Linked DNA regions of Homo sapiens: all the other regions are linked to region 1. Evidence: fine-mapped expression QTL. A gene starts in region 1. Each other region holds a variant in brackets. All regions are shown on one strand. Distances are from middle to middle.

Region 1 (2,625 bases):
CACCTTACTCAACTCGGAGGGTCAGGGAAGGCTTCCTGGAAGAGGAGATAAACCCCTGGAGGTTAAGAAAAGTGAGCTAGGCAAACTGAGCAAATACAGAAGCAGAGTCATACAGGCCTGAAGGACGCCATGAGCCAATTTCCTGTTCCTGGAGGCGCAGGGCAAGGGAAGGAATTGGCCCGCTGGAGGTTAATGGCCAATACTGAGCACTTCTGAGGGCTCAGTGCTGTGTTAGGGATGTTTTATCTCCTTTGATCAGAAACAAAACCCTGAGATAGGTACAATTGTTATCCTCATTTTGCGGATGGGAAAATAGACTTCGAGATACTGACTTGGCGAGGGTCACACAACTAGATGATGTGCTGGGTCCCCCAGTCCTGGACTCCGGAGGCCCCCTGAACGACCTAGGCACACTTGTGGCTTCCGTGAATTTAAGTGCACACAGCCCCCGCCTGGCCCTGTGCTGGGGAAGGGCAGGTGGGAGGAGGAAGGGAAGGCAGGTTTTTCTTTACAAATGGTACCTATTTGGTAGTCAACAAAAGGAACTGGATTTGCCCCAACACTGGAAGAAAAAAAAAAACAACCTGTTGGGCTGAGGGATAGTGCACTGTGCCCAGGGCCCTATACTTGGTTTGATGCTCTGGTGTTACTCTCTTGAAATTCTCAGTAACATGAATAAGGGGCACCGCATTTGACATTTTCCCTGGGCTGAGACCATGATGCAGCCGGCCTGACTGCGCAACACCATGCACACTGGAATTCGTGGGCCATCGGAGGGATTTTCGAGGGTAATGACCAGGGGTAGGGCGCGGCAGAAGCGCAGGGTGAGGTTGCGGACGGCCTCACTCACAACCTTTCCGGGTCTTCGCATTAGGTACTGTGATGACGGGTTCCGATAGTGACCCCTTGGGGCCTGGAGACGGCCCGGCTCCCCAAAGGTGCGGAGCAGGGCAAGCAGGGTTGGGAGGACGTGGCCCGTGGGAGAGCTGCGCTCGCCGGAACAGTGGGCGCGCAAGGGCCCCGAGGCGCTGTGACACGGGACGTCGGGCGCGCGGGCCTGGGGCGGGAACTGCGGGTGCGCGCGGCCCGGGGCGGGGCTCGCCGCCCGGCTCCTCCTCCACGCGCGGCCTGGCGGCGGCGGCCACTCTAACCAGCGCAAAATGTCCCTGGAACAGGAGGAGGAAACGCAACCTGGGCGGCTCCTAGGACGCAGAGACGCCGTCCCCGCCTTCATTGAGCCCAACGTGCGCTTCTGGATCACCGAGCGCCAAGTACGGCCCGGGCCCGGCGCGACTAGGGGCAGGGAGGGGGCGGGCCGGGCCGCGTGGAGTCGGGCTGACCCGGGTGACCTTGGCCAGGCCACGTGGGCGCCCCCTGTCTCCGTTTCCTCCTCTCGGAGTTGTGCCGGGAACGCGCACCACCGGCCTTCACCCCTTAGGGCGCGGCAGGGGACGCAGGGGAAATCGAAGCTGCCAGATGCCCACGACCACAACGTCACCCTCCAGATTGCCCTCTCGGAGGGGCCCAGTCCGCGCAGGTGGCTGCTCCCTACTGCCTGAGCTGTGGCTGAGCAGCAGATTGGGGAGAAACAGGCTCTCGCACCTTGGTAAGCTCAGCCACTTTCGGTGAGACCCCCGAGGCTTTGGGAAGCCACCCTTGGGCAGGACATAAGCAGGACTTATCTCCCTGCAGCGTCTAGGGCAGCACCGTCCAATAGAAATATGATGTGAGCCTTACAGGTAATTAAACATTTTCTAGTAGCCACATTAAACAAGATAAAAACAGCTGAAATTTTTAACAATACAGTACATTTAGCCTAGCAGGTGCAAAATATTAACATTTCAACATGTAATCAGTAAAAAACATTGCTGAGATATTTTACTCGCTTTTTTGGTACAGAGTGTTCCAAATCCGGCGTCTGTTACCTTCACAGCACATCTGGGTTCAGCCGCATGTGGCGAATTGGAGAGCAGGGCTTTAGGGGGTTCTCTTTGAGGCCTCTCCTAAAGTGGGGTCCAGCCCTGTTTTTTTTTTAGGTGGGGAAATTGAGAAGGGGCGGTGAGCTCAGGTTGCTCCAGCAGAGCCAAGGCTTAAAGCCAGAACCACTACAAAGTTTAGAGTTTGCTGGAGCAAACCTCTTTTTCCCCAGTGTGACCCCAGCTGCACCATTGAGCCCTTAATGGGGCGTCCATCCTTTGTCACTGGAGTGAAGCCTTATAGCAAGCAGAGAGTGAGGCCACAGACTCTTGAGATATTCTAGGCCATTGCTTCGAGGTCGTATGTGAGATATGAACGTAAGACCATTTGAACCCCCAAAGTCTGGGATTTTAACCCTCAAGGGCAATTTGATACTGAGAGGTTAAGGGCACAGACTTCTGAATCATTTCCTGGCTGTGTTGCCTTGAGTACATTCAGGAGTCCCTCTAAGCCTCAGCTTCCTCACCTGGAGAACCTGGAGAGGTTGGGAGGATCCCAGGAGATGATGCCAGTAAAAGGCAGATCACAGACCCTGGCAGGTTCTCAGAAAAAAAAAAAAAAAGCCAACTGTTAGTATTTATATCTTTATTTTTCTGCTGCCATTAACCTCTCTGTTGCTTTTCTCCCTCCTAAGTCCTTTATTCGACG
Region 2 (2,702 bases), 890 kb before region 1:
ATACCTGTGGATGTCACCAAAGGTTCCCTGCTCCACAGATAATAGCTTTTCTGGACAGTGCAGGGGTAAAAAGTGAGGACTCACCCAGATTGCCTCTGAGTGCTTCCGTTTCCTGATCCATAAAATAGCACCTAACCCACAAGGTTTTATGAGGACTAAAGAAGTCACATGCAGAGACTCTGGAATCCTGCCTGGCATAGAGCAGGTGCCATAAAGTAGTGCTACTTTGATTACTTCCACAATATGAGACTATCTATTCATTGTGAAACTTTGAACAGCCTGGAAGTTGATTTACTCAAATGCTAAGTGAAAAGAGTAAGTTATATAAGAGTGGGTGTGGAATGATGCCATTTATGTAAGAAAAAAATGTGTGAGCAGCTGAAGACAGCTGGACCAGGCCCCCAGAAAGGAAAGGGTGGAGAGAAGAGGAGGAAAAGGGTAAAAGCAAGAAAGGAAAGCAAACAGAACAGTCACACTTTGTTCTCCTCACTCCTGAATTGTTTAAATCTTCTGCACTATGAATGTAATCATGTCTCATTCATGGACTTAAAAAAATTAGGCAAAAAAATTACAAAAATGGATCCCCTGAAATCATACTGACCAGTGCTGCCCTACTGAAAGCTCCTGACCATTCGACCAACATCCCCAGGCTGAATGTTGCATGCTGGGCATCACCCTCACCCAGAGCCCCTCATCCTGAGCAGGACTGACACTGGGTGCTAAATAGTTCTTTGCTGTGGGGCTGTCCTGTGCATTGTAAGTCGTCCAGCAGCATCCAGGCCTCCATGCCACTACATGACAGTGGTACTCCTTGGAGTAGTCCAAGTTGTGACAACCAAAAATGTCTCCAGACATTGCCAAATGCCAAATGATTTTGCTCCGGGGGGGCAAAATCACCCTGGATGGGAACTAATGTTGACCCACTTTGAGAAAATGAACAAGTGATTGCCACCTATTTTTAGGGAGTGCCACCTATATGCCCCTCACTTCTGAGCAAAGCCCAGCATCAGCATGGCAGGAGCAGGCATTGAGAGTGCTAAGCTAGATCATCAGCTACATCTGCTGCTTCTTCCTTTCTTGGAGAGATGGGATCTCGTTATGTTGCCCAAACTGGATTCAAATTCCTGGGCTCAACAGGCACTCACCAGTACCCTGAATACACTGATCTTGTCTGCATTTCTTTTTTTTTTTTTTTTGAGACAGCATCTCACTCTGTGGTCCTGGCTGGAGTGCAATGGTACCACTCATAGCGCGCTGTAGCCTCAAACTTTTGGGCTCAAGCAACTCTCCCACCTCAGCCTTCCAAGTAGCTGGGACCACAGGCGCACACCGTCTGCTTATTCTTCACTATTGTAGACGGAACAACCTGAGGACCATTATCCACTTCCTCTTAGTAAACACTGTGTCTCCCCCAAGACTGTAAAAACCATTCCACAACATTTGATTTGCAAAACAACCCTTCCCCACACCTGCTCCTGCTGCTTCTC[C/T]CAGTCTCACAAGAAAATGTCATCTCTTTCCCTGGGGTCCCGGGCCATGATGATGACAGTTTACATTTATATTGTGTGTTCTGCCAGGAGAGGATGTGAAGAGCTAAACTACACAGGGGACTTTTGAGAAACTATTGGAAACCAGAGGCACTGAAGGATCACAGCTCTGGGAGTGGCTTGGGCAGCTGAAGAGGTTAAAACAAAGGACAAAAGTTTCTATCATTTGAAAAGCTAAAGCATTCCTTCTCCCCCAACCCCAACTCTCTGCTCCCTTCCCCTTCTCTCCCCTCCTTCCCTCTGCCTTTCCTCTTCCTCAAGCCTTCAAGCTGCCCAGCAGTGTCTCCTTCCAGCAGTTAGTTCTAGAGTGTACATTAATCAATGTTGCATAGTAATAAAGTCACAAAGTGGTTCGCAGTGGCTCACAGTGCAGTCAAGGTTAATTTCCCTGACCCAAATCCCCTGTCCTGGCCCTCTTCTAAACTCTATTTATGAAGTAAAGGGGGTTTTCGGGGAGCAGACAAAATAACCAGTGAACTTTTGGGACTATCTTCAATGTAGTGGACCAAATAAATAATTAACCCAAAAGTTAAATTCCTTTTTCTGTTTGAAATCTAAGCATGTTATAAGGAAAGCCAAAAGTGGGGTCTTTGAAAAGCTGAATGAAAAGGACTAACCCCTTCAAAACAATTCAAAAAATGGGGGAAAAAAGAAAGCAGGAAAGTAAGAAAAATTAGAAATGAGACTACAAATATGAGAGCAATTAAAATAGTTAATGAAAATAACTGGTTATTGCCAATAAATTTGAATACCAAGATGAAATTGATGGCTGTTAGTAAAATGAATTGCCAAAACAGACTCAGGAAGAGATAGAACTGAACAATCACGATAGAATTCTTGGGGAAAATATGTCAAACATCTACCACTACAGTAGGAACCAGGCCCAAATACTTTTGTCCATAAATTCTATCTGTCCTTAAAAGAATAGTTAATTCCTATGCTATTCAAATCATAACAGAAAATGAAAGAAGATGAAAATTTTTTCCAAAATATTTTGAGAAGTAGACATAACTTTGATTCAAAATATAATTTTTAAGTTAAAAAAGTTTATAGTCTTGCATTATTAATAATATAGATGAAAAACCTTACTCAATATATGAACAAAATGAATTTGAAAGTATATTTTTTGTTTTTGTTTTTTTAATATATATTTTGGTT
Region 3 (2,702 bases), 130 kb before region 1:
CAAATCTCCTGACCACTGGCTCACACCTGATTCCTACTTATCTTGTGCCTGGGGTGAGTCTTGGCCCTTTCCTGAGAACAAGAGCATTTGGAGAGAAAAGCCCAGAGGTCCAGCTTGACAGGTGGCTGGCGGCAGGTTGGGTCAGGACAGTGCCTGCCTGGGAAATCTGCTTTTGGGATTCAACATTTCCCTGCAACCCAGCCCCTCACCCCAACTCCTAGGTCCTGGCAGAGGGCTGGGGGGACACGTCTAACCAACCGAGATGTGGTCCTCACCCGCAAGAGCACCTGCTGGGTTGGATCAGGCCTTGTGGACCCATTAAAAGTGGTTATAGTCTCACCTTACCAAGAAATTGAGACTAGGACAGGTTCTGAAATATGCTCGAGTGGCAGAGCAGAGATTTGAACTTGGGTCTGTGAAATGTTCTCATCACCACACATGCCTCTCACCCAGATCCAGGTACGCTTTCCTCCCTGCAGGAGGGGTCAGAGGCAAATACACATGCGTCTCCTCACACCATGAAAGTAAGTGGAGAAGCTGAGCCTCCCTCATTTCACAGCTCCTGGGTCTCTGTTTTTCCCCAACTCCACAAAGCAGAGGTGGGGGTGGAGGTTGAAAATGCTCAGCTCCCAGACCCCCGGGATTAGCAGGTGATTGTCAAGCATCTGAAAAGACACAGAGTGCTCTTGTCATTATTAGATCGTAATAGATTCATACTCACCCCCTCCATCTGAAGGCGTCTATTTCAGGTTTAACGTAACAATAGAGTATTGTTCCTACTCCAGACTCGGGTACCACCCCGAGGCGATGGCAGCACCCACCCAGCCCCACCCTGGCACTGACTGCTGCCTCGGGGCAGAGGCAGCACCACCCAGGCATCCAGGCCATCATCCACTCCCTCCTAGATTCCCAGCAAATCTCCTGGGCAGTGACGAGGAGGCCCAAGGTCTATCCGGAAGGAGGAATGTACAAAGAAGCCAATTTGCCTGATACTTGGTACCTGGCAATCCGCAGTCAACATAAACTATCCTCCCAATGCCCACGGCCAAAGGTCACCAGAGTGACAGACCCATGGCTGTGCACTGGGAGGTCAAAAGACAGACGAGGAACAACAATCACTTAATACACAGAGTGCTTGCTGTATACCC[C/TGTATACCCC]ATCTCTGCTCCTCAATTGTATTCAAGCTTTGCATTCAAGGTTTTACAACTATCCCATGGTAGAGCTTAGCATCTGTTAGCTAATGAAACAGACTGGGCGTCGCCAGAGAAAAGCACCCACTGGTCTCAAACTCCTGACCTCAAGTGATCCACCCACCTCAGCCTCCCAAAGTGCTGGAATCACAGGTGTGAGCCACGGCATCCAGCCACCTCAAGTCTCTTGTCTGTTAAATGGGAGATAAAAATATGTCCTCCACCTGTTTCACAAGAATGGGGTAAGATTCAAAGAGAGTAAGCCACTTCCTGGCTGCATAACCTTAAACAACAGCTTATACATAACTTCTTCAGGTCTTCGCTCTTTTATTTATAAGATGGGAAAATTCTTGTTCATACGGCTCCAGAATATGACAGGAGATGAAGCCACCAAATGCTGAGTGCAGTGCCTGGCCCAGAGCTTGAAGTTTCCCAGTATTCAATGATTAGAGGGTGCTTTGTAAAACATAAAGTCAACACGCAGTTGGCCTCCCATATCCACGGGCTCTGCATTTGTGGATTTAATCAACCATGGATTGAAAACATTCAGAAAAAAAAAAAAACTGTATCTGTACTGAATATGTATGGACTTTTTCTGTTGCCATTATTCCCTAAACAATACAGTATAGCAACTATTTACATAGCATTTACATTATATCTAGAGATGAGTTAAAATATACCAGAGGCTGTGTATAGGTTATATGCAAATATGACACCATTTTCTGTCAGGGACTTGTGCATCTGCAGATTTTGGTATCCTCAGGAGGTCCTGGAACCAATCCCTCACAGACACCTAGGAAAAACTATGATTGGAGAGCCTTGTCCCTCACCGCATCCCATCTAGCACACAGCAACCTTAAGTTTGTGTGCAATTTCAAATGTACTTAGGCCCTGAGGGTGAGAATTAGGTTTGGGGAGGTTTAGGGTATTGGGTTTTTTTAAATTATCTGAAAGACCCCAAAATAGCCACCTGCCCAAGGCAGCAACCCAGAAGCAATGAGCAGATGAACATGGGGGCTATCCCTGTGAAGCCGAGGCACCATGTGTTTGTGAAGGAAGAGGAAGAAAGGAGGATGAGGAGGAGAAGGAGGAATAGGAGGAGAAGGAGGAAGAGGAGGAGAAAGAGGAAGAGGAGGAGAAGGAGGAGGAAGAGGAAGAGGAGGGGAAGGAGGAATAGGAGGAGAAGGAGGAAGAGGAGGAGGAGGAATAGGAGAAGGAGGAAGAGGAGGAGGAGGAAGAGGAGGAGGAGGAAGAGGAGGAGGAAGAGGAGGAGAAGGAGGAAGATGAGGAGAGGGAGGAAGAGGAGAAGGAGGAAGAGGAGAAGGAGGAGGAAGAGGAGGAGAAGGAGGAAGAGGAGGAGGAGAAGGAGGAAGAGGAGGAGAAGAAGGAGGAAGAGGAGGAGAAGGAGGAAGAGGAGGAGAAGAAGGAGGAAGAGGAGGAGAAGGAGGAAGAGGAGGAGAAGGAGGAAAAAGAGGAGGAAAAGAAGGAGGAAGAAGAAGAGGAGGAGGAGGAAGAAGATGA
Region 4 (2,702 bases), 71 kb after region 1:
ACACACTTTGGGAGGCCAAGGTAGGTGGACTGCTTGAGCTTAGAAGTTCAAGACTTGCCTGGGAAACATGGGGAAACCCCCTCTCAACAAAAAATAACAAAATTAGCAAGGCATGGTGGCGCATTTCTGTGGTCTCAGCTACGCAGGAGGCTGAAGTGGGAGGATTGCTTGAGCCCAGGAAGTCGAGGAGGCTGCAGTGAGCCAAGATCATGCCACTGTACTCCAGCCTGGGCAACAAGAACCCTGTCTCAGAAAAAAAAAAAAAAAAGAGTAAAGAAAAAAAAGCACTACATGTAGTGTCTCATTTAAACCCCACCACACCCTTATTGTGGCTGTTTTGCAGATGGGAAAACAGAGGCTTACAGAGAGATTTCATGCCCAATGTCACGGAGCTAGTAAATGGCAAAGCTGGGGTTAAAAGCCACATCTGACTCCAAATATGGCATGTTTATGGGATGAAGTGAAATGTATTTATAATCCTATGTCTGTAGAAAATAAAATGCAAGGTGGGTGTGGTGGTGTGTGCCTGTGGTCCTGGCTACCTGGGGGACTGAGGCTGGAAGATCACTCGAACCCAGGAGTTCCAGGTTGTGGTGAGCTATGATCAGGCCAAGGCCACTGCATTCCAGCCAAGAAAACCCAGTAAGACCCTGTCTAAAAAAAAAAAAAAAAAAAAAACGCAAAAGAAATGTACCTTCTAAGGCGGGGCACAGGTGGCTCACACCTGTAATCCCAGCACTTTGGGAGGCCCAGGCAGGCGGATCATGAGGTCAAGAGATCGAGACCATCCTGGCCAACATTGTGAAACCCCGTCTCTACTAAAAATACAAAAAAAATTAGCTGGGCGTGGTGGCACGCGCCTGTAGTCACAGCTACTCGGGAGGCTGAGGCAGGAGAATCGCTTGAACCTGGGAGGTGGAGGTTGCAGTGAGCCGAGATCGCGCCACTGCACTCCAGCCTGGGTGACAGTGCGAGACTCTGTCTCAAAAAAAAAAAAAAAAGAAGAAGAAGAAGAAATGTACCTTCTAGTCCTAAAAACACCAATGTGAGTACAATAACATGTTTATAGTCCCAGTTTCCCTGTAGGAGGTTTTTGCTTGAGCAGTCTGAATTGTACAGTTAAACCTTAAACAATCTCCTTATCCTCCATTGAGCTGTATTTCTGTTTTCATTTCACATAAGGCAAAGTAACTTTAAAAATTTTAAACTGTTAGTGTTTCATTCTTGCTTCTGCAAGACTTAATGCTGGCCGGGTGCAGTGGCTCACACCTGGAATCCCAGCACTTTGGGAGGCTGAGGCTGGTGGATCACTTGAGGCAGGAGTTTGAGACCAGCCTGGCCAACATGGTGAAACCCCACCTGTACTATACAAAAATAAAAAAATTAGCCAGGCATGGTGCCGTGCGCCTGTAATCCCAGCTACTCG[G/C]GTGGCTGAGGCTTGAGAGACGCTTGAACTTCAGAGGTGGAGGTTGCAGTGAGGCAAGATTGTGCTACTGCACTTCAGCCTGGGCGACAGAGCAAAACTGTCTCAAAAAAGAAAAAGAGTTAATGCCAAGAGAATTGTTAAGGTCTCTGGGTTTGTATCAGTTTTCTATTGCTGTGTAACTAATCAAACTTAGAAGCTTAAAGAACACCCTTTTAGCCGGGCACAGTGGCTCATGCCTGTAATCCCAGCACTTTGGGAGGCCAAGAGGGGTGGATCACCTGAAGTCAGCAGTTCAAGACCAGCCTCGTCAACATGGTGAAACCCCATCTCTACTAAAAATACAAACAAAATAGCCAGGCATGGTGGTGGGCGCCTGCAGTCTCAGCTACTCAGGAGGCTGAGGCAGGAGAATCACTTGAATCTGGGAGGCAGAGGTTGCAGTGAGCCGAGATTGCACCATTGCACTCCAGCCTGGGCAACAATAACAAGACTCCATCTCAAAAAACAAACAAACAAACAAACAAACAAACAAACAAAACCCTTTCATTGGCTCACTGTAGGTTAGTTGTCCAGGAACAGTGTGACTGGATGCTCTGTTTAGTGTCTTGCCAGGCTGTGAATCCAGGCACTGACCAGGCCGCATTCCTCTCTGGAGGCTCTGGGGATGCGTTTGCTTCCAGGCTCATTGAGATTGTTGACAGAATAATTCCCTTGCAGGGGTAGGACTGAGGTCCCTGTTCTCTGGCTGGCTGTTGGCTGGAGGGCTTACCTCAGCCCTTGGAGGTGCCTGCAGTTTCTTGCCTTGGGGTTCCTTCTGTGTGCCTGCTCATGCTTTGAATCCCTTCCTTTGCTTCTGACCTCTCCACATGGATGGATTTAAAGGCTTACGTGATTGAGTAAGCCCCACCCAAATACTCTCCCCCTCAATCTTTTAAAAAAAATCAGAACACTCATTGCATGGCTAATTGTTGAAATTCTTTTTTAAATTTAATTTAATTTAATTTTTGCGGACAGGGTTTCACTCTGTTAGCCAGGCTAGAGTGCAGTGGCACATTCCTGGCTTGGCTCACTGCAGCCTCAATCTCCCTGGTTCGGGTGATCCTCCCACCTCATCCTCCCAAGTAGCTGGAACTACACGCACACACTACAACACCTGGCTAATTTTTTTGTATTTTTTGTAGAGATGAAGTTTCATCAAGTTGCCTGGGCTGGTCTCAAACTCCTGGACTCAAGCACTTTGCCGACCTTGGCCTCCCAAAGTGCTGGGATTACAGGC

The links. PIP is the estimated chance that this variant, and not a neighbour inherited with it, causes the effect.
Region 2: its variant is the best candidate, but not a certain one, in a credible set for the expression of SFXN4 in hypothalamus (GTEx, PIP 0.78).
Region 3: its variant is the best candidate, but not a certain one, in a credible set for the expression of SFXN4 in breast (GTEx, PIP 0.86).
Region 4: its variant is the best candidate, but not a certain one, in a credible set for the expression of SFXN4 in whole blood (TOPMed, PIP 0.82).

What each region holds. Positions count from the first base shown.
Region 1 is chr10:119,164,183-119,166,807 of GRCh38, reverse strand. It overlaps SFXN4 (sideroflexin 4), which reads left to right and starts at 1,094. Exons shown (of 14, transcript NM_213649.2): 1 at 1,094-1,271; 2 at 2,612-2,625. The coding sequence starts at 1,161. RefSeq lists silencers at 946-1,415, 1,457-1,643.
Region 2 is chr10:120,050,617-120,053,318 of GRCh38, reverse strand. No RefSeq gene overlaps it. Among named protein-coding and RNA genes, the nearest start is that of MIR4682, 93 kb to the right of the region's middle. The variant C/T (reference allele first, on the strand shown) is at 1,488.
Region 3 is chr10:119,291,892-119,294,593 of GRCh38, reverse strand. The region is part of intron 1 of GRK5 (G protein-coupled receptor kinase 5); the gene reads right to left. Among named protein-coding and RNA genes, the nearest start is that of GRK5-AS1, 46 kb to the left of the region's middle. The variant C/TGTATACCCC (reference allele first, on the strand shown) is at 1,149.
Region 4 is chr10:119,093,363-119,096,064 of GRCh38, reverse strand. No RefSeq gene overlaps it. Among named protein-coding and RNA genes, the nearest start is that of DENND10, 9.4 kb to the left of the region's middle. The variant G/C (reference allele first, on the strand shown) is at 1,427.